3 separate regions of the Homo sapiens genome follow, and all the other regions are reported to be linked to region 3. The links are microRNA targets in miRTarBase. Many come from high-throughput screens and were not tested one by one. Region 3 holds a microRNA gene; each other region holds the end of a gene's coding sequence. Distances are between the middles of the regions.
What was found. Region 3 holds the annotated microRNA hsa-miR-218-5p (UUGUGCUUGAUCUAACCAUGU, at 1,348-1,368, opposite strand). A microRNA usually pairs through its seed, bases 2 to 8, with sites in the 3' UTR of a target mRNA and lowers its output. Matches are read on the target gene's strand: a 7mer-m8 pairs with bases 2 to 8, a 7mer-A1 pairs with bases 2 to 7 and ends in A, and an 8mer does both.

Region 1 (3,000 bases), not on the chromosome of region 3:
CAGTCCCTATGGTGGTAAGTACTTTCTTAAATCAATTCTTTAGAGCCTTTTTAATTTAAAAAATGTGCATACTTCTTTTAAAATACTATGTATATTTTCAGGTGGTTATGGATCTGGTGGTGGAAGTGGTGGATATGGTAGCAGAAGGTTCTAAAAACAGCAGAAAAGGGTAGGTATCTTTAAATTTTTATTATGATGATAAAAGAATATGTGGAACTGTTCACTGAGTGTAATAATTTTTTTATCCTGTATTATTCAACAGGCTACAGTTCTTAGCAGGAGAGAGAGCGAGGAGTTGTCAGGAAAGCTGCAGGTTACTTTGAGACAGTCGTCCCAAATGCATTAGAGGAACTGTAAAAATCTGCCACAGAAGGAACGATGATCCATAGTCAGAAAAGTTACTGCAGCTTAAACAGGAAACCCTTCTTGTTCAGGACTGTCATAGCCACAGTTTGCAAAAAGTGCAGCTATTGATTAATGCAATGTAGTGTCAATTAGATGTACATTCCTGAGGTCTTTTATCTGTTGTAGCTTTGTCTTTTTCTTTTTCTTTTCATTACATCAGGTATATTGCCCTGTAAATTGTGGTAGTGGTACCAGGAATAAAAAATTAAGGAATTTTTAACTTTTCAATATTTGTGTAGTTCAGTTTTTCTACATTTTAGTACAGAAACTTTAACAAAATGCAGTTTCGAAGGTGTTTCCTTGTGAGTTAACAAGTAAAGAAGATCATTGTTAATTACTATTTTGTATGAATTTTGCTAAAGTTAACTGTAAAGAAACACCTGCTGACTTGCAGTTTAAGGGGAATCTATTCTCCCCATTTCCAAACCATGATATGAATGGGCGCTGACATGTGGAGAGAATAGATAATTTGTGTGTTTGCAATGTGTGTTTTAGATAAATAGGATTGGGTATTTAAATTAGCATTTGTGAATTTAATAGCATTAAGATTACCTTCAAATGAAAAAAAATCTCAAAATTTCTATTTGGTTTTTGTGCATTTTCTTTTAAAATGTAATCATATGATTTTAGTGTGTTAGACTTGCTGAGTCCTAGCTGTGTTTAGAACATCTCTATTCTACATTTACCTTGGTCAAATTTGAACTGCTGCCATAGGTTTTGGGTGTAAAGAATGTTTACTGCCCTCCATTTAAATTCTGAAAAGGGATGGTGGATGTTTTCCCTCTCCTACGTTAGAAACCATTCTTAAAAACTTTTGAAAATATAGAACCATTAAGCCTGCTATATCTGAGCAAATTAGTGGGTACCTTTTTTTTCTTATTTAAAGCACAAGAGGCCCATAAATCTTGAGTTACTTTAAATTCTTTTTTTTGATACAAGTTTTCAGAGCAAGAGAATAAAAATCATGTGTTATTAAACCCCTAACTGGCTGGCATGCTTTCCTGTTTGTATTCTATACATTTTGCTGGATGAAACCAAGGATAGTTCAGGTATAATTGTCCAAAATAACCTAACTGCAGCAGAAATGTAGCACAGTTGCTTAGTACAGGCTTCTCACTTCCTACAGACCTGAATTCAAATTTGGATAGTCTGAGTTCTTAAATTCCCAAAGAACACACTGTTATTTCTTGTGTATATTTCAACATAAATCATGTTGTTACCAATTTGTTTGGAAGGCCCTGGTTGAGAAGAGTTTTAGTTAATAAGGTCATATATACATATATTAATATAAACCAATGTCTACTGTTTTGCTCCAGCTAGTGCTTACAGTTTCATTCGAGCCCTGAGTATGTGCCCTGCTGTTACTCTCTTTGGTAGTTGAACGTTGAATTCAAGTCTTTTGTTTTAAGAAGTACTAAGCAAACAAGCAATAAAAAGGGGAATGGGGTGTGCTAGTGTTTGAATATGCTCTCTTGTTGCTCTAATTCTGTGCCTCTGTGCATTAATATTTGGATGCATGCAATGCCAGCATGGAAATTGGTCTTCACACATACTGCAGTTTTCCAGAAACATTCACAAACCAATAAATGTAACAGACATTCCATTTGTTAATGGGCATATATGTGAAAAGCAGTGTAGAAAATAGGCTAATATTAGAAAATGGTTAAGTCCTAAATAACTTCAAGTGTGGTTATATAATGGACACTGTCAATGTTCATAACTTAAACCTGGGTACCTGGTCAAAATAATGCTTGGGAAACATTAAAATTGAGCTAAATTGTCTCAAGTTCTTTTATTCATATAAATAAAGTTTAAAGGAATGGGGGAGATTAACATTTCCTGTTTTATGTTTGTGAAATTGTTTGACACAACCTTGACAGTATCCTTTAATGGCATGAGGTTAATTGTACTGTTAACCAACTTTCTATGTTCTGGAACTAGTATTATAGTGAAAACATTTACAGTAAGTTGATGTTTACAACCTATAAGCAGGTGAAATCTGTGTATGTGACCTGTTTATAAGTTGTATTAGCTTAGCTCTTGTGAACAGTGTGGAAAAGTAAGCCATGAGGAGAGCGATTTAACCACCTTTAAAGGACCTAAGATGTGCTTTTTAAGCACAGTGTGGATCACAGAAACTCACTAAGACAGGACTTCAGCAGCCTTTTGTGTTTGGACAAGTCAGCATAAATAAAGAATGACAAGGCAGCAGCAAGAGCTTCAACTACAGAGAAGTGAAGGCATAAGATACTATGATGATAGTGAGCAACTTTCCAAAAGCTAGTTAAATCTGCTTATTACAACTGAAATATCGAAGAAAGTCTAGCAGGAAGGAGCTCTTCGCCTTTTGGAACATCAATGAGAGATAGTTGCCACAGTCACTAGGTCTAGCATTTAGACCTGCAAGGAAGGGCAATAAGCATTAGGTAAGGCTTGAATTTGAATTTTTTCACTAATTAAAGAGTAATTTTTTGTAAAGCAAGGTAAGAGTAATCTTTTTGATTTGCAGGTTGAATGAGAACCCTACTTGCCTAAATGAGGAATGTCTTTCCTACCATCTAAAATACGAAGGTTTCTGGCTGGGTAAGGTTTGTA
Region 2 (3,361 bases), 55 Mb from region 3:
GGATGAGCGAAGAGCCTCTCTGTTTACTCAATTTTAGGAACACTCTTTTTGGAATTTAATTCATTCCTAAGGCAGAGAAGACAGGGAACAGTATACTAAACCTAAAAAATAAGCAAAAATATTATTTGTGTAAAAATTTTGGTTTTATTAATTGAGATACATTTCTGACTGAAAAATAATGAAATCATGTTGTTATTTTGAATTATAAGTATCAGGTATTCATCTGATTATGCCTAGGTTAATTTTCTTGCTTGTACTATTTATACTATTTAATATTTGGAAACTATTTTAAAATAAGCTTTTTTTTTGCTCAAATCTGCCTTTTCATTTTCTGAATTCAGAGCCACCTTAATAGCTTTTTAGAGTTTTCAGTGAAAAAATAAGAAGAAATTTCTACTTTTGGAAATTTTTAGACTTATGTATGTATTTTCACATCTTTAATATGATTTTCAAGGGATTATGAGTAGACAATGCTACTTGTATTTATAAGGTTTAAAATACTTAATTTGAATTAATCTCTTTTCAGATTCTCTGCAATGACTGTAATGGACGATCCACTGTTCAGTTTCATATATTAGGCATGAAATGTAAGATTTGTGAATCCTATAATACTGCTCAAGCTGGAGGACGTAGAATTTCACTGGATCAGCAATGACGAGCCTACACAGTACTGGAGAACTTGGCATTTTCTGATATAGAAAAAGGCTTTCCTTGGTATCGTGTTATCATGTGTCGTCATCTATGCATTAGAGTTGATGTGTTTTGTACTAGTGTCACAGCATAAAATCATATTACAAGTACGTAAGGATTCAGGGTCTCTTGATAGACTTATCATAGCTCTATATTGAATGAAAGCCACTGTGCTTGTGTTTTGATTGGAAATTCCTTTAGTGTCAGTTTTTTGGAAGCCAATGATGTTTGCCACTGATACATTCATAGAAGTGTATTATATTTTCATGAAGCTTTGCTTTAAGTGACACTACGCGTGCAGTTCATTTCTAGTTCTTGATAGAACTGCACTTAATTTTCAGTAGTAGTCTTGACTTTTTAAGGGCTGTGTTATATTAAGTTCTCCCTTACTGTTAAAACCTAATTAAATATGCTTTAGAATTTTCTAAGACAGTCCTCTGGATCCTCTAAATGTGAATTTTGATGTAATAACTGCTAATAAAATTATATTGAAACTGTTTTATAGAAAGTTTTTTCCAAAGTTTTCTATGTTTGGCTCAATTAGGGCAGTATCATCAGTTCTATAATGTAAAAGAAATTTTCTTTCTTTTGAGGTATTCCATAAAAGTAGTTGGGAAAATTATTATGTAAAATAATAAGACTCTTCCAAAGCCTTAATAAAAACATCAACATTGAAAACAGTTTTTTTTAGGTTGCCCAAAATTATTTCTTCAAAGAGTCATTCATTCCTTCATTTAGCAAGTATTTATTGAGCAACTGCTATGTGGCAGATATGTTTCTAGATGCTGTAGAGACAACAGTGAACAATAAAGATAAAAGTCCTTGTCCTCACAGCAGTACATTCTATTGTTCATCATATTTGATCAATGTACTCATTTTTCTTTATGCAAGGAGTGGATGTCTTATTGTAAATGAATAGAATATTTCTTCCCTAAGCGTGTGAAAATAGGGGATGGATGAGTGGGAAGGGCATGGGATATTCCTGGCAAGATCTCTGATTTCATAATACTTTTTTGGGCTCATGTAGTGGAATTAAATATACCTCTTACTTCAGGAACAAAGTTAACAAATATGTTTGATGATCCAGCCGACTTTGACACTGTTATCTCCGTAATAGCTTTACCATTAGGCTAGGATGTAAAATGTACATTTATCAGTTGATAAGTACCTATTGAGCACCAGTTGTATTTCCAACTTTGAGCTATTTGAATCTTCTTTGAATAAGGAAGTTAGCCTTTTAACTAGAAAGCCTAAGAGTTCTGGCACATTTATTTCTTCTTTTGTTGAAATTTATTCACCTAGATAAAGGCAGCAGTTTGGGACTCAGATCTTTATTTTATCCCACCTTCTTGTCTTCTGTATTCCACTCTTCTTATGTTCTTTCCCTTCATCTGTTTCCTTGGCCTGGCCAGAGCAGCAGTGCTGATCTTCATTTGGGAAAGGATGTTCCTGGGTATTACCAATTAGTATACAGATAAGTAAAGACTAGTTTTCCAGATCTAATACTTTTTTTTGAAGTGGTTTTGCTCTGTCATTTAGGCTAGAGTGTAGTGAAGTGATCGTAGCTCACTGCAGCCTTGACTTCCTGGGCTGAACTGATCCTTCCACCTCAGCCTCCTGAGTAGCTGGGACTACAGGTGTGTGCCACCATGCCCAGCTAATTTTTAATTGTTTTGTAGAAACAAAGTCCAGGCTGGTCTTGAACTCCTGGGCTCAAGCATTTCTCCTACCTCGGCCTTCCAAGGGCTAGGATTACAGGCATGAGCCACTGTGCTTGGTCCAGATGTATTACTTTTTATGTTTGGTATTATTCTGCCAAACCAATCATGTTATTGTTTTTAATCATTGAATCATTGGATCTTTAAATAGGAGTGAGTATATAATAATAAGGCTCTTCTGTTTTCAACATCTGTGCTGGGTCATGCATTAGCATTAATTACTACAATGATTCTGTGGGGTAAGTGTTGTCCTCATAGACAAGAAAGCTGAGGTTTAGAGGTTAAAATGACACATTGGGGGTAAATAACAGACACTATATGTTGGAGTTGGGAATCAGATCCAAGTTTGACTCCAAACCCACTTTTACCACATTGCTTTTGATCTAAACTTCTATTTTGCTAAAATACCCCTCACAGCTAGTCATCCATATCATTGAAGCGCTCATGATTTGATAGATTAACCTTTCATTTTTTTAGGTGACTCTAGTTAGAAAGTCTTATTTCACAATCTGATTGTTTCTTTAACTTAGGATCCAAACATGTCCAAAATAATGCAGAGTACATATGCAATCACTCGTTTATGCTGTCTAGTCATGCACTTAAAGCAATTTTCAAATGTACTCAAAGTCTCTAGGCTTCGGTACCCAGGGTTGCTTCAAGTATTTGTTCATGACACGTCAACTCGATGATTAAAATCCTTCAACACTTCTCATTCACAATAAGAATAAAATCTACATCCCTTACCATTCAGTATGCAAAACTTAAAATACATAACTTTACCCTTAAATATTTTTTCTTTCTCTGACTTCATAAGTATAGGTTATACCTCTATAAGAAAGAAGGTAAAAAACTCTCAACAATCCCTTCTTTCAGAGAGAACTACTGTTAACATTTTAACAGACAACTTCATTCTTTTCCTATTCTTTTTTATAATGCTTACAGGAATGTTAAAT
Region 3 (3,361 bases):
ATGTTAAGGCTGTTAAGTGTAAATACCATCATATTCTGCCTTTTCAGCTTTTCTTGCATTGTTCAGAAAAAGCTATCCTTTCTACTTTAATACTTGATAACCACTGAATCCTTCTGCCCGTAAGTCAATGAAGTAGTAAATTAGGTAAGACAGACTCCTTGAATCTATTGATAGTTTACAGAGATTGAAAATGGAGGCTCTCAAACTACTTTATTTAGTTGCTATAAGAATTAAATACGTTAAAAACTAAGTACTTAGAAAACAAATTGGGAATAAATAATACCCAATAAATAAGCATCAAATAAATACCATTGTTATTAGTATGAAGTGCTTACTGAATTTTGAGAGATAAATTAGTTTCTGTACTTAATCGTATGGTTGGCTAGAAAGATGAATGAAGGTAGCCTCTAATATATTCTTGTACAAAATAGAGTTATGCCAATGTAATGCATATTAATTAAAATTAATGCAATTATTAATAATAAAAATGGCAAGACAAACATTCTTATGCTTTAATGCTTTCATTCCCTCCATCCCAACCAGAATTTTGTTGGGGGATGAACTTACAACTCTGCAGTGTACTGGGGAATGTGCTCCGGGATTTTGTTGAGCTTTTGATTAGAGCAATCTACTGTGGTTCCTTCACAGCGACACTTTTCAGGGCAAGCCAGATCCGCAAAGCAGTCTCCACTTAATTTTGATCGATAATCTTCTGTACCTATTGAGAATTCAAACCAAAAAAAAGATACTGAGTCTAAAGGTTAGAAAATTTATTAGTTTGTAGGAAGAAAAAAGTAAGATAACTATAGATTATGTAGCAGGGAGACAACTTGGGGTATTTTGGTCAATGGATGTCAGGAGAAAGGTTAAAAGAAAGGCTTGGAATTTTCTGGAAAAAAGAGTGACCAGATTCACATGACAGGAAAACATTAATAAAGTTGAGCTTTTCACAGCTGTACTTTCTGCTGATCCAATTCTGAGTCATTCTAGCCTACTTCACAGCTAGTCACACAATGGATATTAATTATTAAAAAGTTTATTTTTTTTCTCGGAGTCAAGAATTGAAAATATATCCAGTAATAAACATGATCCTATATCTCATTGTAAATTAGGGCTTTCAAGGCAAATAGATATACTCAGGCTTTTAAATTTTCTATGGACTTTTTACTATTCTCTCCCTCTCACATAATCTCGGAGATGCCTAAAAAGCCCTCTTTTTTCATTTTGATTTTGTAGAAAGAGACAGGAAAATCCTGATTTAAGCCTCAGCAGCTTGTCATGCTGTAGAAAGCTGCGTGACGTTCCATGGTGCTTGACGGAACCATGTTTTACTCATACCTCGCAACCACATGGTTAGATCAAGCACAACAGAAAATCTCGCTACATTATCACTACACCAACCACTAGGCCAAAGGTAAGACCAAGAGGAAAATGGAGGGAAGGAGGAGAAAAGCTACAGACGTTCTGGAAACGTAATACTGTTTACATGACATGCATTCTTCCCGCAGAATGTTTATGACCACAGTAAGAGTATTACTACCGATGATTTCCTGGAAACACAAAGAAGGGGCTATATGGAAAAGGTGCCTCCACCATTCCTCAGAACTGCAGAATGGAAACAACAGCTTTCGGGAACAACATCCAGGAAGAAGTTGAAGGTGAGCTACAAGGACAACAGAGAAGCTCAAAAGATCTGTGGTTTCTTCTTGAAAAAAAGGTGCCAAAGACCAAGACTAGAAGAAGGTACATCAGGATTGAAAAGGGAGGGTATTATGTTTCAGATCAGACACTTTTACTTACAGCCAAAATGGTGAATTCCTGCAAAAGTAAAGATCACCAAGAAGGAAAGAAAGAGTAATCCCAATTAAGATTAATATACATATTTATAAAACTAAGCTCTCTTCCTTCTTTCTTTATTATGGGAATTATTGAAAAAATAGCATGATGTGATGGGAATTGTCATGCTTTGTAAAATTTTATAAATAATATTTTGAAGCACGGTGGTCTCACAAGAAAACCAATGTAATAAAAGATGCATAGTGCAAATTAAGTTCTTGATTCCTTTAAAAGATGAACTCTCAAGGCCGGGTGTGGTGGCTCACGCCTGTAATACTAGCACTTCGGGAGGCCAAGGCGGGCGGATCACAAGGTCAGGAAGTCAAGACCATTTCACCTGACGGGTGAAAACCCATCTCCAGTAAAAATACAAAAAATTAGCTGGGCATGGTTGCGGGCGCCTGTAGTCCCAGCTACTCGGTGAGGCTGAGGCAGGAGAATGGCATGAACTCGGGAGGCGGAACTTGCAGTGAGCCGAGATCATGCCACTGCACTCCAGCCTGGGAGACAGCGAGACTCCATCTCCAAAAAAAAAAAGATGAACTCTCTGCAAGACAGATTTTCTTTTATCACTGTAATATGTAGAGTGCCATATAAAATGGTAGTAGCGAGGTACACACGTAAAAGTGAATGAAAAACTAATCATGGAGATCCTCAAGGACAATCATTACAACATTTGGATTAATCCTTATGTTGTGATGTACACTTTTTAATGAACTTTTCAACTTATAAATAATGTGTCTTAGTGGAAATGGAATCAGAATCTCATAAGAAGTTTGCGATGGTAAATATAATCGTTTCATTACATTTGGCAGTTAATGCCATGATATTTACTGAGGATCTGGTGTCTTATGATTTATGCTTCACTCCAAAATGAAATAAGAGTGCACAAAGTCTAAGTGACAGGTACACTGGATATCTTGCAATTCAAATAATCTGCATTCAACGGAACAGTAATAATGCTTATTTTATGGTGGCTTGTTAGGTGGACTCAAATTTTAATTAAAATTTTTGGAAAAAAGGGGAGGAAGCCCAAATGATCCTTTTGAGTCCTGGCTTCTACAATTATCATGTTTAAAGAATGTAAATTAAATTATCATAAATTGAAACTTAAGACATGATATTTGATATAAAAGATAATTTCCAAATCCTATTTTGGCTGCTGTCAGTAACAGGGAAAAACTATATCAGAATATATGAAAACAACCTGACTTTTGTTCTTTATTTAGTGAATTGGAAATATTAAACTTACCAATTATTAATTAAGTATATTTAAATGAAATAGTTTGAATAATTTGATACCAATTACATTACTGCCATAATTTTAGGATTTAAATCATATTAATGTTTTATTCTATAGGTAGTCTGGTGTTTAGAATATGGCTTTTTCTGGTTAAATAATAGCTATCAGATTACTTTCCACTTAATTGGGTAAAGTAATTAATATTAAACATTGTCAATGAAGGCCAATCAACTGTTCTTTTCAACATGTTACTTGTTATGCAGCCAGTATAATAATATACAA

Region 1: miRTarBase lists HNRNPA3 as a target of hsa-miR-218-5p. Seed matches in the 3' UTR shown: 8mer at 1,289-1,296 and 7mer-m8 at 2,521-2,527.
Region 2: miRTarBase lists RCHY1 as a target of hsa-miR-218-5p. The part of its 3' UTR that is shown has no 7-base or 8-base seed match.

Annotation. Positions count from the first base shown.
Region 1 is chr2:177,219,146-177,222,145 of GRCh38, forward strand. HNRNPA3 (heterogeneous nuclear ribonucleoprotein A3) reads left to right here. Exons shown (of 11, transcript NM_194247.4): 9 at 1-14; 10 at 102-169; 11 at 263-3,000. The coding sequence ends at 154. Among named protein-coding and RNA genes, the nearest start is that of HNRNPA3, 7.9 kb to the left of the region's middle.
Region 2 is chr4:75,479,832-75,483,192 of GRCh38, reverse strand. RCHY1 (ring finger and CHY zinc finger domain containing 1) reads left to right here. Exons shown (of 9, transcript NM_015436.4): 9 at 527-3,361. The coding sequence ends at 655. Among named protein-coding and RNA genes, the nearest start is that of RCHY1, 33 kb to the left of the region's middle.
Region 3 is chr4:20,526,306-20,529,666 of GRCh38, reverse strand. It overlaps MIR218-1 (microRNA 218-1), which reads right to left and starts at 1,392; the gene lies at 1,283-1,392. It overlaps SLIT2 (slit guidance ligand 2), which reads right to left. Exons shown (of 37, transcript NM_004787.4): 16 at 568-718.